Linked DNA regions of Homo sapiens: region 2 is linked to region 1. The links come from fine-mapping of genetic effects on gene expression. A gene starts in region 1. The other region holds a variant in brackets. All regions are shown on one strand. Distances are between the middles of the regions.

Region 1 (9,680 bases):
GACTTTATAAACTTTGTATAGGTATTACTTTAATGAAAGTGGAAATTAAAATCAAATAAAGCCTTTAACTCAAGCAGTTCAAAAAGGAAAACAAAACCCACACTTTAAGATATCAAGCTAGCCAGGCGCAATGGCTCACGCCTGTAATCTCAACCCTTTGGGAGGCCAAGGTGGGCGATCCCTTGAGTCTGAGAGCTCAAGACCAGACTGGGTAATGTGGCAAAACGCCGTTTCTACCAAAAATTATTAAAAATCAGCTGGGCATGGTGGCATGTGCCTGTGGTACCAGATACTCAGGAGGCTGAGATGGAAGGATTACTTGAGCCCAGGAGGCGGAGGCTGCAGTAATCCGAGATTGCGCCACTGCACTCCAGCCTGGGTGACAGAGCAAGGCCCTGTCCCCAAAAAAAACCAAAAACACACATACACACAAAGAAATCAAGCTAAGATTCTGAACCTTGATAAAAGCCACAGGCAGAAACTACTATCTAAATCAAGACAGAAGAAAATCTTCTGGAGTCAAGGCACACAGAAATTCACAAGACTTCAACGCTCAAAGCCAAACACTGATTGCCTGATGGCCTCACAGCCCTGCTCTAAGGAGCCCAAACTAGCAATCACAGGGTTACATGAGGAAGGAACCTCGAGTCTCTAGAAGATTAAAATAAGAAGATGCAGTAAAAAGGAGGCTTATAGCCATGGGACATCTCACCGATTCTCGGAAGCCATCATACTTGTAGACATGGCCATTCTTTGTAAGCAGTTTAAGTCCATGGCCCAGAGCAACACGGCGCCAGATACCTTCTGTTAACTCCCCAGCCTGGATGTTGTCCACTTTGCCTGTCTTGCTATTCTTGAAGATGATGCCCTGACGGCTCAACCTCAGTCGACCATCATTCTGTAAGAAAAGCAGGCCCAGATGCATGGAGACAGTACACAGCATGTCCTGGGTTCTACAGCTCTACCTAACACACATTCCTGCTGCAAGTGGACTGGCCAGATTATCAATGCAGGAGCAACAGCTGAGGGTGCCAAGGAGTCTAGATTCTAAACCAGACTCTGGTATCTAGAACCCTTAACAGATTCTCAGTTTCCTCATTTGTAAAACAGGAATTGGGAACTGAACAGCATATACGGTCCCTATAACTCTGAGACTATCTCTCAGTATTGCCTTGAGTTGGTGGAGACACTAGGTACACATTATACTGAGTCTTCTTTTTCCAAAATAACGTTACCAAAGCAAGCTCTCATTAATGGACAAAAACTCTACCCTCCTTCCTTCTCTCTACTTGTATCACCTGTCCAAGCCATTCTCACCATGGAACCTTTCACCTCCTGATAGACGTCGTTGAACTCCAGTGTCTCTGCCATGTCGACCCCTGCCTGTGGTGGCCTGGGCAGAGCCCCAGGCTGCACAAGGGAAACCAAGTAAACTGGGAGCTGGGCCCCAACTCCTGAGTGGGTGTGCGGATGCTCAGCAGGTTGGGAATCTGAATTCAAGAGGAAGACAGATAAGCATGAAAGACAGCACCTCGCTGTGCTCACGGATGGAGCCAGGTAGCAACTCCCAGCTGCGCCTGGATGTCTCAGGATTTCCTCTGCCTGGAAACCTACAGACGGACGCTGCAGTGCCCGAGGGTCCAGGTCCAGGCCTGGGTGGAGAACCGGGCCCGGAATACCGCTGACACCCAACCCGACGCCCGCTCTGGCCGCTCCGGCGGGAGCCATGGCAACGAGCAGCGGAACCCCAGGGTCTGCCAGGAGCCCGCACATCGCACGCGACCCAATCCAGCTCAGAGTGCAGGGTTTCCCTCGCACCGCTCCCACCACCCCGCGGCCCCAGACCCACGGTTCACCCCCGCCCCACATAATGGATTCGCCCGCTCCCCGCGGTTGCGAACGCGGAATGGTCCATGTCGAGGGTCCCGTGGGGGAGCGGGGCCCCTGCCTTCCTGGGACCGGGGACGACCACCACCTACCTCCTCAGGCTGCGGCCTCGCGAGGGCCCCGGCGCGAGAGGTGGGCGCGCTGGGGGGACGCGGGGGGGGCGCGGGGAGGGGGATGGGGGGACACCGGGGAAGCTTTTCCCGCGTGCGCGGCCCCGCGTCCCGCCACCGGAAGCCGTACACAGGCCACAGAGAGGATGAGCTGGCTAGAGAGACGCGAGTCGGGCCCGCCTGCGAGACAGTCGCATAGAGCGTCAGCGACTCTGGAGGACCTGAGGGAAGGGTGGTTGCCGTGAAGCCTCTCTCACCCAGGGGGAATCCGGCCTAGAAAATGTGTGTAGGGCTCTTTAGAAACTACAGACACTTCTTCAGTCGAGACTAGATACTAAAGAGAAATTGTGTAGTTTTATTGTATCAGACTTAGTACAGGGGTGGGGTGGGGGTGTGTATTGGAATGATGCGTGCCCGTTTCTCTGCAAAATAGTTTCTATGTCATGGAAAGGAGTCGATGGGACAAGAAGAGAAGTATTTGAACAGTTGTGGGAGGAAACGACCTCTCCCACTGGCTGCGGAGAGTATGCGGGTGTTGGTGTCATCGTGGGTGCACTGCTTTCTGGCTGAACTGTCAAGTTCACTGTCTACACCCAAAATTTTCACATCCTTAACCGAAAATTATAGGTACCTCCAAGAGGCTGGCAAACGGCCTTATCCAGTTCAAGTCCTGGTGTCAGATTCACCTTGGAGCCAGAACTGATTTGAAACCACATCATCCTGTGGTTGCGGAAGCCAGGTCTCCCCCGTATAATCCCAGAGTGCATTTTGCAACATCAGAGACCAGACCTGGAAAAGATGTTTTAGTTTTTCTACCCCAACCTCCTTTTACTGATGGGAAAACTGAGACCCAAAGGGGAGTGAGTTGCCCAGGGTCTCAGTGCGTTGGCAACAAGGCTAGGTAGGACCCAGACCTCCTTAACACCACCAGTCCAGTTATCTTCTGTCATAATCACAGTGACTGTATGTTCAGAATGACTATTGATATGTGTCCTACATGAAGACATTAGTACAGAATATGTAAGCTCAAGATTTCCCTGACAATCAATACACCAGCTTGCTAAATCAATCCTGGGGTAAGAGACAACAGGAATGCACCCTTCTCCCCTGAACTCATAGCTTTAACCTCTGAGTAGTGGCTATTCCAGCATTATCTAGCAAAATAAATTCAACTGGGTTTAATAAATAGATATTGAGGGCCTATTACTACTTTAGCACACTTCTCAGATTTGAGGAAACTTGAACAAGGTGAAAACATCCCCGGCCAGGCACGGTGGCTCACACCTGTAATCCTAGCACTTGGGGAGGCCAAGGCAGGGAGATCACTTGAGGTCAGGAGTTTGAGACCAGACTGGCCAACGTGGTGAAGCCCCGTCTCTATTAAAAATACAAAAATTAGCCAGGCGTGGTGGCGGGTGCCTATAATCCCAGCTACTCAGGAGGCTGAGGCATGAGAATTGCTTGAACCCAGGAGGCAGAGGTTGCAGTGAGCTGAGATTGTGCCACTGCACTCCAGCCCGGGTGACAGAGCGAGACTCTGTCAAAAAAAAAAAAAAAAAGAAAGAAAGAAAAAGAAAAAAAAAAGGAAGGGAAGGAAAGAAAGAAAAAAAAAAAAAACAGAAAAAAAAACCCAGCCCCAACCTTTCAGGAAAACATAATCTAACAAATGACTTTAATAAATAAAGTGACAGTTAAAAAAAAAAGAAGTTGGCACATATACACCGTGGAATACTATGCAGCTGTAAAACAGGATGAGTTCATGTCCTTTGCAGGGACATGGATGAAGCTGGACTCCATCATTCTGAGCAAATTATCACAAGGACAGAAAACCAAACACCGCATATTCTCACTCATAGGTGGGAATTGAACAATGAGAACACTTGGACACAGGGTGGGGAACATCACACACACCAGGGCCTGTCGCGGGGTGGGCGGAGTGGGGAGGGATAGCATTAGGAGATATACCTAATGTAAATGACGGGTATATTTACAGTTAACGGGTGCAACACACCAACATGGCACACGTATACATATGTAACAAACCTGCACGTTGTGCAGGTTTACCATAGAACTTAGAGTATAAGAATAATAATAAAAAGAAAACAAAACAAAAAAGACGTGCTAACTGCTATGCTACAGGTAGAGCGAAGCTCATTACCAGCTGGAGTTAGAAATATGTGACTCTTTACTCATCACACCCCAGAAGACCCAGAAAAACTTTCAAGAGACCTTTTCCCCCTGACCCATGCCACTGGGGGCAACTCAGGAAAGGAGGGGACGGCGCAGAACTGGGTGGAATTTGGCAGACACTCAGGAATGAAGAGGGTCCTTAGCTCAGGCAGGCTATTAGGTGACTGGGGGATGGGAAATTGCAAGGGGCTTTAGGGAGAGTGTGAGCAGCTGGTGAGCTGGGATGAGGATGCTGCAGAAGAGAACAGAACAGAAACAGTAGACAGAGTGCAGATAAAACATTAGTCCCAGAGGGCTCCAGCCAGCTACATCCCAGGCAATCAGGAGCCCAGGATTGGAGACCCCACCCCTGCTGTGACATCACAGGGGAGTGGAGTGGAGACGAACAAAAAGGGGGTCCCCCGCCCTGGTCCTGGCCTCTTGGAAGCCAGAGTATCAAGAGCAGAGAATCTCACTAGGATTGCATGGCTTAAAGGGACAGGCTCCCCATTCCTCCAACCCCTCTAAGCTGCCCCCTCCAGGTCGTGATCTCGTCTCCCTGTCCTGTAGGACCTCCCTCTCCTGAGGCCACCACTGGGCCCCCTTCTGAGTGTCCCCTGAGCACTCTCTCAGCATGAACTGCATATCCGACTTCTTCACCTATGAGACCACCAAGTCGGTGGTTGTGAAGAGCTGGACCATCGGGATCATCAACCGAGTAGTTCAGCTTCTGATCATCTCCTACTTTGTAGGGTGAGTCTGTGGCCTTTCAGGTTCCTGGCGGGGTGGGCTGCCTGGTATCCCGTCTTCACCCTCCTGCCTCGGTGCTACCATCCAGCTTCCTGAGCTCCTCTGCTCCTGGGGGAAACAGTTTCTTCTGTGGAGCCGAGTCTTAAAGACTGGCCTCTGCCACCCCCACCTAGGGCCTAAATTCACCCAGGTGAATTCTTTTCCCAGTTCGTCCTCCAGGGTTGAGATTGGTTTCAAGACACACGCTCGGAGTAGTAGGGTCCCTGCCCCGGCACTGCCCTCCACCGAGGGAGGGCTCAGGAGCTCCATCTCCACCCTCCCTGCTCTCATCTCCCCAACAAGAGAACAGGCAGACCCCCTCCCACATCTTCGAATTCCCCTCAGTCAAGTCTTCGGGGTCTCAAAAAGACAAGACAGCACAGGAATAGGGAAGGGAAGGCACTGAGACAAGGGGGTGGTGGCAGGTTGATCAAGTTGGTGGCCGGGAGGGAAAGAGAGAACTGGATCTGTTTTAGAATGAGGAATTTCCTTCTGGCATGGATGGGTGAGATGGTGAGAGAGAGAAGGGCAAGGGAGAAGCCCTCTGCTCTTGAAGGGGAGGACAAAGAGGGAACTGCCCCTTGATGAGGAAACAAACAGAGGCCCAAGGGAAGAGTGGCCAAGGAGAAAAGGAGCTTTTCTGAACATAGTGCCGCTCCCTCCCCAGGAATCCAGAAATGCTCCCCTTTGTCAAAAAGTGTAAGTTCCCTACCTCTCCCTGACCCTGTGCCATGTAACCCATCCTAGGAGTTGCTTAAGAGCCAGGAAGGTGCAACCATCCCCTCAGCCCCCACCGCCTGCAAGCACACACCTACACACACACACACACACGCACACAAAGGGCTGTGGAGCAGACAATGGCTGGGGAAGAATGCAGGTCCTGTCCTTCTTGTGGTCATTTCCACACACTGGTGGGCACCAGGAAATACAGGCAGAAACCTCGAAGGTTTTCTTTCCTGGCATGCGGGTCTCCAATCTTATGCTGTTCTTTCAGACAATGGGTCTTTGCATTTGAGGCAGCAATCCACTGACTGTCAGGAGTTAGTTCAAGCAGGTCAAAGGAGAATCCTGTGTGCCTGTGGGCTGAAGCTGCATGCAAACCTGCTTGCTTGAAATGTTGAAGTTTATGCGAGGGTGTGGAGGGAAAGGTGGCTAGATGTGACTTTTTAGGTGATTTTTTGCTCTGTGTGCTGGGCAAGCCCTGGTAGGCTTCAGTGGGCAGGTATTGTAAAAAGGCTGTACCATCCAGTGCTCCTTTGGGAGATTTTAGAAAAGGGATTCAAGCTTTGGAATAGCATTAAATGGCCACAAAGTTCCCTTCCAATGTTGAGGTTTTGTGAGATACGAGGTTTGCAAATGTTCGCTGTCTGCATCTCTAGAGCTTGGCTCAAAGTTGGTTCCTAAATGTTCTGTGTTCACGTGTATATTCAATGCTGTGGTTGTTTATAGCCACAAGATGGTATGTTGGCCCAGGTGAGTGCAAAATCTGGCTCAGCACATTCCCCTTCTGGCCTGGCTCCACTGGCTCCAGGCAGAGATTGATGGGGGAGAGAGTGGGCTCCTAGACCAGCCCGCTCAGCCCCCACTGCCCTTGTCTCTGTCTCATCATGATCAGATAGAATCCTCCAGTCCTCAGGGCTGGAGCCCAGCCTGCTGGAGCGAGTGTGCGAAGCTCTTTAGCATCTTAATTTCCAACCCCATCCATCTCCTAGCCTGACAGCTCCCCACGGGACACTGCCTTCCAGTTACATCAGCGCCCTCTGCAGCCCAGCCCCCTGACCTGAGTCCCATCTCCGTGTATGTGAACCCATGCACGTTGTGACTTCATGAGTCCACCGTCATTAATTTAGCAAAAATGTACCAGCATCTCTGCATGCCAGGCACTGTGGATTGAGGACGGAATGGTGGGCAAAAGCAGACAGGGTCCTCGCCCTCCTGGGGCTTACAGCGGAAGGCAAGAGATGGCATTCATCTGATGATCTCCACAAACGTGAAATGTCAACTGTGGCTTAGAGGTGCACAGTTATAGAGAGCCGCTTCTGTGAAGGTGTTTGGCCCAGTCAGGGAGTAAGGGAAGGTTTTCTGGAGATGTGACATTTTAGCCAAGACCCGAAGGATGAGTAAGAGCAGCCCAGGTGAAAGAGGGAAGGAAGAGAGTTCAGGGCAGAGAAACCCACCTCTGCAAAGGGAAGGAGGCTGGCAAACAGGGGAAAGAAAAGAAGGTCATTGTGGCTGGAGCCGAGGGAGCAGAGATGAGTGAGGGTGGTGTACGGTGGATGGGAACACACACAGAGGCCGGACCTCAGACACCCTTAGAGAGCTTTTGTTTTTACAGGAGATGAATAAACAGAAGCCATGGAAGCATTTTAACCCGTGTGTCTGTGTGCACTTTTGTGTGTGTGTGCACGTGAGTTTGAGAGAGAGAGAGACAGACACGATGAGATCTGAGTTGGGAAGAGCACCTGGGCTGATTCCCTGGAAGTGGAAGGAGTAGGAGTGGGTGCAGGAAAACCTGCTAAGAGGCAGTTTATGCAGAGAGGTGACAGTGGCTTGGACCCAATCGAATTTGAAGGGATTTTTAAGGCTATAGTGTTAATATTTCACTGATACTTCAATCTCTTCCCCATCATCCCAACCAGGTCAACAACCTAGACTCTGCCTAACATGAGTCCATCATTTCTCTGAGAACTTCTCAGCAACACACCACCTGGTCATCTCACATACGCTCTCACCCCCGCCCCTGGCCTCAGCTGCTTGTCTGTGGTTGACACCATTTCATCACTATTTTCCTTTACCCACTCCAGGGCACACAGAGAGGCCTGGACTTACCTGATGTTTCTCACATCTTTTCTGGGTCCACGTGGTAATCCCCACTCACCTCTGTGGAGTGGGACTTCCCGAGAGCCCATCCCCGTTCTGGATCCTTTGGGGACCTGAGAAGTTGAAGGAAATCCCTAGGATCTGAGTCCCTGGAAGCAATAGCCTGTGCTTGGCCTGAGGTTGATTTCCAGGGCCTTCCTGGAGGAAGCTGCCTCCTTGCAAACTAGGAGGCCAGGGACTTCCCAGGCCTTTGATGCCCCATTGTGCTGAAGGGTCACTGGTGGCTGCTGGAGCCTCTGACCCCACCACAGCCCTGCCCTACCTGCCCTGTTCCTCCCCCATACAAGACCCAGTCCACAAACTTGCCATCTGTACAGCCCCATGCTTTGGTTCATAAAATTCAGCCTCATTTCAGATCTTAGGTGGGAGTTCAATACATAAAGCAGGTGAAAGGGAGGAGCTGCTCTGGTTTAAAGAGAAGGGTCTAGAATCCTGCCTTCTTGGCTCTCCACTCCATCCTCTCAGCCCAGGGTATCACTGTGAGGCACCTTGTCAGCACAATTAAGTGACAGATATGGTGGAAAGAGCTGTTATGGTGGGAAGAACTGTTGGGCTGCCCCATCTTTTTTTTTTTTTTTTTTTTTTTTTTTTTGAGACGGAGCCTTGCTCTGTCCCTCAGGCCGGAGTGCAGTGGTGCAATCTCGACTCACTGCAACCTCCGCCTCCTGGGTTGAAGCGACTCTCCTGCCTCAGCCTCCCCGGTAGCTGGGATTACAGGCCTGTGCCACGACGCCCGGCTAATTTTTGTATTTTTAGTAGAGATGGGGTTTCACCATGTTGGCCAGGCTGGTCTCGAACTCCTGACCTCAAGTGATCCACCTGCCTCGGCCTCCCAAAGTGCAGGGATTACAACATGAGTCACCATGCCTGGCTGGATGCCCCATCTGGACCAGTCATCCTGGTCCAGAGAGAGGAGTGACTCTCATTCCTGCCTGCCCTCTCCCCCAATATGGAACGTAGAGCACTTGGTTAGAAGCCTGGCTCTGACACCAACTAGGAGAGGGCCTCCTAAGAGTGACTTTACATCTCTAAGTCTCAGTCCCCATATCTGGAAAATGGATTTAGGAATACCTCCTCCCTGGGAGTTATAGGGAGGGGAGGTAACATATGTCAAGTGCCTTGCGGAGATGGTGACTCAGTAATAGATGGCAACTGCGACTACTTCACAAAGACCCCCCCATCACCCCTCCCCCTTTCCCTCTGCCCAGCTCACACCTTCCTAAGAGACCCCTCTCCTCCTCCCACACACACAGCGTGCACTCTTCACACCCACTCCCCAGCCTCCTCCTTGGCTCCCTGGGGGCGGATGGGAGGGTGCTGGGGCGCGGCTCTGGCCTCTCTCCTGCACATCCCACCTGCCAAGGAGCTGCCACACGCCTTCCGCTCTATAAATAATAAACCATGAATGCGAGAAGAAAATAGTCAGAGCAGCAGAGTAAATGCCAAGAATCGAAGGCTCAGGCCTGCCCTAGCTCCTGAGCCCTGGCCTCCAGAGACAGCCTCAGCCCCTCCGTTCTGGAAATGAAGCATCCCCTTCTTTCTAGCTGCCTTGATGACATCCCGAGGCCCTGTGAGGCCATTGAAATTCTTCCACTTGTTATTTAAGTCAGAGAGAGAATTCTAATGTGGCCTCTCCACCCCACTGGGCACAAGAAGGAGCCTTGAAGGAGGAGGAGGAGGAGGTAGGAGATTGGTTGATTGTTCCTTGGAGTCCTCGGCCCTTTCCTCCTGAGACTTTCCTAAGCCAGGAGATGCTTTCACTGGTGATGGAGCAGGAGCTGGTAGGAAAAGCACAGGGTCCGGTTCAGGGGGCCAGCATGGCCTGGCTTTGAGCTGGGACACAGC
Region 2 (9,645 bases), 56 kb after region 1:
AGGGGAGTTTCATCTTGGCTTTATCCTGCAACGGAGAACACAGTTTGTCATTGACACACACAGACACACATGCACACACATCACAATCACACCATTAGGGGACCGTGGGAGTGAGGTGGAGAAAAAGAAGGCCTGAATAGAAATCAGGATGGGCCAGAAAAGCTCATGCCAAGCCCAGCTCCTGATGCTCCAGGATCCAGGACGCAAGGACCTCTTTCTAAACAGAACGCAGCAAACCCTGAGGGGTGGCTGAGGCTGGCTTTCCTTCAGGCCCGGAAGTAAAGAAGGGACTATTACGCTTATTTGTTTGTACTTAATGGGTCCCTCAGAGTCTATGACATAAAAAAGGCGGGAGAAGCAATGATTATTGGCTTTCCTAGGAACACATAGGACTTAGAAGGTATGTCCCCTCCTCAGAGTTCAAGAAGCCACCCACACCCTCCTCCATGTCTCCACCATCTCCTTTCCCCAGCCAAGGAGCACTTTCACATCCCGCAGAAGGAATGTGCAAGGCAGAGGATGAAGGCTGCCCCTGCTGACATCCTCATAACCTGAAAGCCACAGGTAGACGCCTGCCAGCCCTCCAGAAACTGTCAGCCACAGCCAGGGACCTCCTGGGAGAATAAACTGTCACCAGCTCCACCACAGCAGAGAAAGCACTCACCCACCCAGAGACCTTCCTGGGTCTTTAGATCTTCCCAAAGCCCAGGTCCTTCTTTGCTTCCTCTCACAAAGACTTCTTATATAGAGGCCTTGGAGGAACTTCCCCCAGGGAGAGAGAGTTTGCCTCTGTCAGAGGGAGATAGCAAGGCTGATAAGGACCATTTCATCACTTCCCTGGGGAGCCCACTCATTCATTCAGTGAAGATTTCTCTCCCGATACCCACTTCAGGAACCCAGGGGCCATCTGGAACAGCTCTGGGCAATGGTTCTTATCCTGGGCTACACTTCAGAATCGCCTTGGGTGCTTTTCCAAAATACATATCTCCCCTGTTTTACTGGTGTTTTGAACTGCCACAAACATTTTGAGAACAAATCTGTCCATACCTATTAAAATAAAAAAATGCACATTTGATCAGTTTCACTCTTTTGAGACTATCCTTTAGGCATAAATGCGCCTATAAGTAATAAAACTTTTACAGAGTTATGTTATTCCTTGACTATTTGTAGAAATGAAAACAATATTGATATCCATCAATCGGACACTGAGTAAAATGTGTCCTCTCTATTCTACAGAATGTTATATGGCTATGAAAAGAAGAGCTGGACCTGTATCTATAAACCTGAAGAGATGTTTCTGTGACATGAAGTGAAAAAAGGCAAGATACTGAGGAAAGTATTTAGTATGTGAATAGTTTTACAAGGAAAAAAAAAACCCCCGCATAGGTGCTTATCTGTGAGCATCCTTATGTGACCATTGATGGAGGGAATGCTAAAAGGAATCACACCAAATAGTTGACCTTGTTGCCTCCAGAAGCAGGGGAGGAGAGGGAAGAAAGCAGGAGACAGATTGTTGTTTATCTTCTTTTTATAACTTTGCATTTCTTCAGTGGTTATGGTAAATGCGTGCTGAATCTGTAATTTTGAGGCTGCCTTATTAAAGATTTTTAAAAATATGCAGATGCCCTGCCCAGAAACTTCTGCTTGGCTAATAGGTCTAGCGTGAAGGTCAGATGTCTGCATTTTTTTAAAAGCTTCCCAGCTGACTGTGATGGAAGATGGGTCTAGGAGTCACTGTCCTGAGGATCTTCAAGTACAGGAAATGTTCACGTATGTCTAACTTCTTTCCTTCTGAATCAGACCACTCAGTTGGCCAACCTACCAGCCTTCATTATGGTAACATTTACTGAACATTTTTAAATGCCATGCATGGCAAGTGGCTGGATGCAGTGGCTCATGCCTGTGATCCCAGCACTTTGGGAGGCTGAGGTGGGTGGATCTTTTGAGGTCAGGAGGTTGAGACCAGCCTGGTCAACATTGCAAAGCCTTGTCTCTACTAAAAATACAAAAATTAGTCAGGCATAGGGGTGGCTGCCTGTAATCCCAGCTACTTGGGAGTCTGAGGCAGGAGAATCACTTGAACCCAGGAAGTAGAGGTTGCAGTGAGCTGAGATTGCACCACTGCACTCCAGCTTGGGCGAGAGAGTGAGACTCCGTTTCAATCAATCATCAATCAACAAAATACTGTTCATGGCAAGTATTACCTCATTTAACCTGATTTTAAAAACCTAGTGAGGTAGGTGGTTGATACCCCATTTTCCAAGTGAGACAACCCAGGCTCTGTGTGGCTCCTGATCTCCCCGCAACACTGCCCTTATTGGATCGATGCCCTGTATACACCCTCTTGTAGCTCCAGGGGCTTGTCCTTATCAGTTAGTCATTTTACTTTTCTTGTGAGATTACTTGGTTAATGGATTAACATCTGTCTTCCTTCGTGATGGTGAAGGCTGCATCTCTTTACTCACCATTGTATCCTTGGTGCTTAGTACAGTGCCCGGCACATAGTAGGTACTTAATAAATATACATTGAAGTAATTAATGGTTAAGTAACGTACTCACGTAAACAACAGGGTTAGAATTCAAATCCAGTTCTTTCTGGCACCAAACTTCTCTCCCCTCCCATATGCCTGCTTGTGTGTCAAAAATGATGCTATCCAGGTGGAGATAAAATCAGAGTGAAGCATAGATCCTGTATTCAATTAGCTTACAACCTAATTTGTAAGATGAGTAAATTGAGGTCAAACAAAAGGAGAAGGGTTAAGACCAAGCTAGGAAACATCCTCTGCTAATTCAGAAGGAAGTCCATGCATAGTAAAACAGAGCAGAAAAGGCTCCATGAACCAAGGAGCTGATTCCTACCTGGATGGAAAGATGCAATTAGAAGGGAAGGAAACAGGCATTTCAAGTAGAAGGAACAGCTTGAGCAAAGGTGTGGAGGTTGGACAGCCTTGGTATATGCACAGGACACTGTAATTTCCTTCATAACTAAAGTTAACAGTACACACATTGGGAAGGAATGAGAAAAACGAGGAACGATGCATTTCATCTTGAGCCGAGGATGGAGATAACCCTCCCCTGTCTCCATTGATTTAAAAAGACAGAAGCAGGAATCAAAGGAATACTCAACAAGAGCCTAGTCAGGAGCTTTGAGCTGGGCTCTGCGCACTCCCATCTGCAAGCCCTCCCCACAGGACCTCTTTGGCTGTTGGACAGAGGATTACTGTCATAAGGTGATGAGAGGGAGCCCATTCTTGGAAACCAGTTGACTGTTCAGGGACCCTCACTCCTAGGGAAGTCTCTCTTTTAGGTCATACAATCCAGGATCTGAAATCCACAGCTTAGCAACCCTGAAAATTTCATCAACATTCACTGGAAGTATACAGCAGTGTCTGAGAGGGTGGCTTCTGGAGTCAGACAGTCCAAGTCAGACTCAAATTGACTGGGTCTAGCACTTAATAGCTGCGTGTCGTGTCCTGGGCAAGTTCCTTAAACTTTCTGTACCTCATATCATCATTTATGAAGTAGGGATGACAATACCTACCTCACTGGGTAGTGTGAGAAATGAATGAGATAATTCACATGTAGCATGCATGCTGTGAGCTGCCCAGTCACCTCACCCCTTCCTGTGGTTTCTTGGATTCCATTTCCTATGGATCTTGGTGGAGGACAGGCCTCTCATTTTTGAAGACAAAAGTTCCTAATAGATTTTCAGCTTCCTTTGCAGCTAACGCATATGACTGGGCTCTATCAAAGAGAAGAAGCATCTATTCAAGATTTTGAATCTGGAGCTAGTGACCAAAAAGATGGAGGCCAAGAAGGCCTCTCTCTGGCGGTGGCGTTGACAAGATTGAGTTCCTGGAGTTGCAGTACCCACAGAGGCACTGCAGGATACATTGATCCAGGGTCTGAGCCCTACAACATCCTGGGTGCCAGACACAAGGTCTAGGTCTCAGCAGCAGTGGGATCCTCCCTAGACCTGTTCTGCAGCCTGACTTTGGCTCCATGTCTGGTTTTCCGGCCCTTCCTGCAATTTCATGAGCTACTCCGTTTCCTTTCAGTCCTGGATTTTTCTACTTAGATCAGCCAAGGAGAGTTTCTGCTGCCTGCCATTAAGAGCCCTGACTGATGCAGCATTTAGCACAGAAACTGGTATTTAGTAATTGCTTAGTAAATGAATGCTACCCAGGGTCTTTGAGTGTGACCAGCATTAATCAAACTTTCAAGAGACTGATGTCTACTTTTGGTGCCAATGACATAAATGAGGTTGAACGGTACTCACAAGGGGCCCACTTGCCCAGGCTCTCTGATAAGCACATTCTTTCCCTGCATCACAACTGTGGTGTGCTCAGGACTTGAATTTCAAATGGGAGCGAAGAGCTGGAGGCCTTGGGGTCCAGTGCCTTTGAGCAAGAGAACGATACCCATCATCTCCGTTTAATCCTCAGCCCTGCCTCCTTCCCCAAGAAATGTTGACTCATCACTGCAGGATCCTGAATCTTAGGCATCCTCCTTTCTAGCCCTAAAGTTACTACAGAGCTTGGAGGTTCCTAAACAGACTCAGTCAATCCTCTCCATACCAGCACTTCCAAAGGGGACCTGACAGATCACCTCTGCATTTAATCTTTTCTGATCTAATTCTCGGGGGGCTCATCCCAACTTTAGGCTTGTGGGGGAGTGTGCTGTAGCTCCTGGTACAAGCTGTCCAGGGTCAGACCTGGTACTGAGGGGTCTGCTCTTCTACAAGAGTGGGCTGTTGCAACAGGAGAAAAACATGTGTGCACCAGGCAGAGCAGAGATCACCTTGGAGATGGTGTCAATACCAAGGAGCTCTTGGGATGCCCCTCCCATGCCCAACCCCCAACACATGACAGCTTAAAGACTAAAAAAACCACCACAGCTCCAGATATGCAGCTCACACTATTCAGCCCTCACCTCCACCTGCATCCCTCCCCACACCCT[G/T]CAGCAGAGCTTTTCAACCTGGAAACTATGAATAGGCTTCAAGGGACCATGAACCCTGCAATTATAGAAAACATGGTGTGATGTTTCTAGGGTGAAGGTCCAAACCCTCCATGAGATTCTTTGATGACTTCCCAAAAGGCAAGAGAACCTCTAACTTTACTGAGTGATTTTTTTCTGGAAGAACCAAGAATGACATTCCACTGTTCTTCACCAATAAAGTCCTGCTTGGCCCTTTTGACAGGCAGAATTCAGTTGTCCCCTGGTGCACTGTGCATAATCCCTGGGACTGTAAATATGATGGATTTTACTCCTGTGGTTGTGTGATGTTACATGCCACAGTTGACTTTAAGGAAAAGGAACTGCCCTCTATGGGTATGATCTAATCAGGTGATCCCATAAAAGAGACAGGGCTCTCTTCCTGAAGTCAGAGAGTCCAACCATGTGGGTGATTCAATCCAAGGGAAATTCTCCATCACTGGCTTCAAGGATGGAAAAGACCACGCACGTGGCAAGCAATGTGGGCAGCCTCGAGGACCTGAGAGCAGCCCTCATCTGACAGTCAGCAAGAAAACAGGACCTCAGCCCTGCAACTCCAGGGAACAGAATTCTGCCACAACCACGTGAGCCTGGAAGAGAACCCTAAACTCCAGATGAGCACACAGCCCAGACAACATCTTGATTTTAGCCTTGTGAGACCCTGAGCAGAAAACCTAGCCATGCTGGGCCCACACTGCTGATGAACTCACGATGAGCTAATAAACATGAGTTGTTTGAAGCTGCTAAATTTGAGGCAATTTGTTATGCAGAATAGAAGACTAATACAGCCCTCAAGGCCCATCTCCCTCCCACGGTGAAATTTACAGTGGGTGTAGGGATTGGCAGAGAAGGGTCCCACAGGAACGGGCTGAGGAGCTGCTGGAAAATAACGAAGGTACAGCAGAGAGGTAAGATGGACACTGAGAAAGGGAGGTTTGATTCAGGCCAGAGATCCCACCATTCTCTCCCTCAGACCATAGGAAGCCAGGTGGCCCTTCTAGTTACATGTTCTGCTCCAGGATTCTCTCCCCACCCTCAGAAAAGTGACAGACTCCAGGGACCTGATCTCTGGGGCTGATCAACTGCTTGTTAACTGGGCTTGGCCAACATCCCCACGGGGCAGATAAAAGCTGGTGAAAGAGCTAACGCCACTGCAAGGGTGAATGGCTCGGGAGATATGGACTGGGCGGTTGTTCTGTGAAATCGGCCTGGACAACAGTTCCCCATTTGGATGCCCCAACAATTGACATAGACCAAGACGATTGGCATGTGAGATCTGGAAGGCCCCTTAGAAACGAACCAGCACAGTCCCCACGTCTCAGATGGGTTCTTCCCGCTTCCTCAGGAAGTGACATTATCCTCTTTCCCCTCCAGGAACCTCTGCTCCCAGAGACCATGAACACTCAGTGAGCTTAGAAGGAATATGTCTTTGCAGTAATTGCCTCCCCTGCCCCATCTTCTACCTTCCCCAGTCCGTCTACTTCTCCCTATCTCTGCTGCCACCTCACTAGCCCCTGCGACCATATTTGATAACATGTATCACAGGCCATTGTCCCCATGCTTCCCATTCAAAGTCTTCCCACATAGTAGCAATTAACCCAAACCCATTACCACCATCTGCAAAGTCTTTCATGATCAGGCTCTTGTCTACAAGCTCAAACTCACTGGCATGACAAGTGACCCTTGTCATCCTGGTCCCAGCTCCACTGGCCAAGCTAAAGCATTTGTACTGGTTAAAAGGCCACCTCCTCAGATAAGCCTTCTCCGAGAACTCTTTCTAAAAGAAGCCCACCCACCCCACTCTCCTATTTGGTACTTTTGTTACACATCATCACATTTATTTCCACAAGAACATTTACCAAAATGATATAATCTTGCTTTCTTACTGGTTTCTTGTTTATTATCTCTCTCCTTCAGAAAGCAAACTTCATGACAACAAGGACCTTGTCTGTCTTGTTCACTGCCTATAACTCTGCCCAGGTCATAGAAGGAGTTTTTCCATTACATAATGAATTAATTAATCAATTGACTAATCAACTTGAACTTTACCCCCTGGAGAAAGTTTAGCTGAGTTTAGATCAGAGCACACATGCATTTATTTCGATTCTACAGGTATTTTCTGAGCCTCATCCACCATGGACACAAGCCTCTACCAGGCTCTGGATCATCGATTGATTCATTCATTTATTCAACAAATACTTAAAGAGAATCTCTAGTTGCAGGGAGGTTTAAGGTAGCTGATAAATAAGGCAAACAGAACGAGCATATTAGTAAAACAAGGCAATATATTGAGGAGATACTCAGAAGTGTAGAACTAACATGAATGGAAGAGACACACATTTTCAGTGTTGTCAGGATCACTTAAAGTGTGACGGCAGGCAGAGAAGGCTTGCTTGAGGAGGTAGCGCTTAGCCTGGGCTCAACAGACTGACAGATAGGATAGGATAAGCAGAGGAGAAGTGGGATGGCATTTCTAGGGGCCAACCATCTCCTGGTAGTGCTGGAATTTGAGCCAGGATATGGATGATTTTGTGTTTCTTGGAGGTTAAGTCAATGAGTGAGCTGGCTTCTCTGCTTTGCACCAAAGCCAAGCTCCTCCAGCAAGTGGTGTAGACTCGCTGGCCACTTCCTCAACACCCTCTTCCTCCTCTTACCATAGCAGTCTTGTTTCTGTTATCCCTATTGCTCCACCAAAACTGCTTTTGCCCAGGTGCCCACTGACTACCCCATTGCCAAACCCAACAGACATTCTTCAGTTCTTATCCTACTTGACCTCTGCAGTAGTGATACCTCTTCACTTCCCCCTTCTTAAGAACTGCTTCCCTTCTCAGTAGCCTTTGTGGCCATTCCCTCCCAATTTCTGTTGGCAGGCTCCTCTTATTCTTCCAGATGGTTAAATATTGGGGATCACCTGGCTTCTTGGTGCACGTCTCTCCTAATTCTGCACACCCACCACGGGTTATGTCATCTACTCTTGTGGCTCAAGCTACCAAATATATACGCAGATCATTCCCAAGTCTTCATCTCCAGCCCCAGGCCTGTTTCTGAGCTGCAGACTCACACATATGGTCACCCAAGATGCTTCTCCACTTGGATGTCCCATGGACATTGTGAGTCCAACACATCTCAGACTGAACTCAACACACACACACACACACACACACACACACGCACAAACCTGCTTCACTTTTTGTGGTCACTTTCTCAGGAGAAACCATCACCTTCCAACTAGACCTGCAAGGCAGGACTCTGGTCATCCTTCACCCCTCCTGCCCATCATCCACACATTAGTTAGTTATAGTGCTTTCTTCACCATCTCATCCAGCCACCCATCCCCATTGCCTCTGCCACTTTCCTAGTCACCTGCTGACCGTTTTTCACCTGGATCATTTCAGTGGCTCCCAAATTACTTTCCCTGCCTCCAGTCTTACCACCCTCCTCCACCTCTGATGCACTGTCTACAAGCAGCCAAAATGAGCTTTCTAAAACCCAGAGCTAATCACACCAGCACTTTCCAATTACTCCTTCTTGCTCTCAGGCACAGTCTCCTTATGTTTTAGCGCCTACTTACCTAAACCTCTCAACACTGTGGACATTTTTGACTGGATACTTTTTTGTTACAGAGGCCTGTCCTGTGCATTGTTAGATGTTTAGCAGCCTCTCTAGCCTCTACCAAAAAGATACTAGTAGTACCTTCTCGGCTGGGCTGTGACAATCAAAAAATGTCTGCAGACATTACCAAATGTCCCCTCTGAGGCAAAACTATGCTCAGTTGAGAACCACTTCTTGACAACCTCAATTCTCCCCCTCACCACACACACACAGTGCTCCAATCATGTTGAACACCCTGCTATTTTCCTAACATGCCATGATCACCCATATTTTGTCACATGTCATTTCATCTGCCCAGAATGCCCTTTCCTCCCTAACCACTGCGCTCTTTCCTTTTCTTCATCGAAGTTTCAGCCAAGGATCACCTCTTCCAGGAAGCCTGCCTTGGCTCTCCCAGAGAAAGGTAGCAAGGACACTAATCAGGGCTTCTCTCTAGTCCAGCCCTCTTCCCACCTCATTGTAGCAATCTTCTTGCTGTTTCCCCAGTAGAGCCAGAGCCTTGCTTCCTTCACCTGTGCCTCTCTGGTCCTGCACAGTTCTGGAAACACAGTACAGGCTCAATTCATGTTTGCTGTGTAAGTGAATAAATGAAGAAAAGCAATTTTTGTTTAAGCTTGTCAAAGATTGAGTTGGGCTCCCTGAAATGAGATCTTAGGCAGAAATTTTAATAACGATAACAACAGCAGCAACTAATATTTAGGAAGTGTTTCTAGGTGCTAAGTATGTTAAGTGCTCCATATTATTCAACCTTCTAAACAACTCTAGGACACAAGTGCCATTAAACTACCTAAATTACAGACAAACAGCTGATCCTGGGAATGGTTAAGTCATTTTCCAGGTAAGTGTCAGAGCCAGGATCCGAATGGAGCGGCTGCACTCTTGTCCGTGACTCACTTCCCCTGTGGTGGTGAATAACTAGCACAAAGCCATTTACATACGTTGTTTAATGTAACTTACCCTGTAAGTTGCATGGGGCAGGTGATGATTTGGAAAGCACAAAGAATGTGGTCCTCGGATGTTAAAAGACCCTGGTTAAAA

Alleles and levels. Positions count from the first base shown, and alleles are read on the strand shown. Sizes are in standard deviations (SD) of each study's normalised expression.
For the expression in left ventricle of the gene that starts at base 4,602 in region 1, G is the low allele of the variant in region 2 and T is the other (moderate effect, 0.53 SD a copy in GTEx).

What was found. PIP is the estimated chance that this variant, and not a neighbour inherited with it, causes the effect.
Region 2: its variant is fine-mapped to the expression of P2RX3 in left ventricle (GTEx, PIP 0.92).

What each region holds. Positions count from the first base shown.
Region 1 is chr11:57,333,751-57,343,430 of GRCh38, forward strand. P2RX3 (purinergic receptor P2X 3) reads left to right here and starts at 4,602. Exons shown (of 12, transcript NM_002559.5): 1 at 4,602-4,919. The coding sequence starts at 4,801. SSRP1 (structure specific recognition protein 1) reads right to left here and starts at 2,142. Exons shown (of 17, transcript NM_003146.3): 1 at 1,980-2,142; 2 at 1,318-1,490; 3 at 713-898. The coding sequence starts at 1,371. RefSeq lists enhancers at 1,311-1,380, 2,231-2,280 and a silencer at 1,881-2,060.
Region 2 is chr11:57,389,932-57,399,576 of GRCh38, forward strand. PRG2 (proteoglycan 2, pro eosinophil major basic protein) reads right to left here and starts at 719. Exons shown (of 6, transcript NM_002728.6): 1 at 665-719; 2 at 1-25. The coding sequence starts at 13. The variant G/T (reference allele first, on the strand shown) is at 4,960.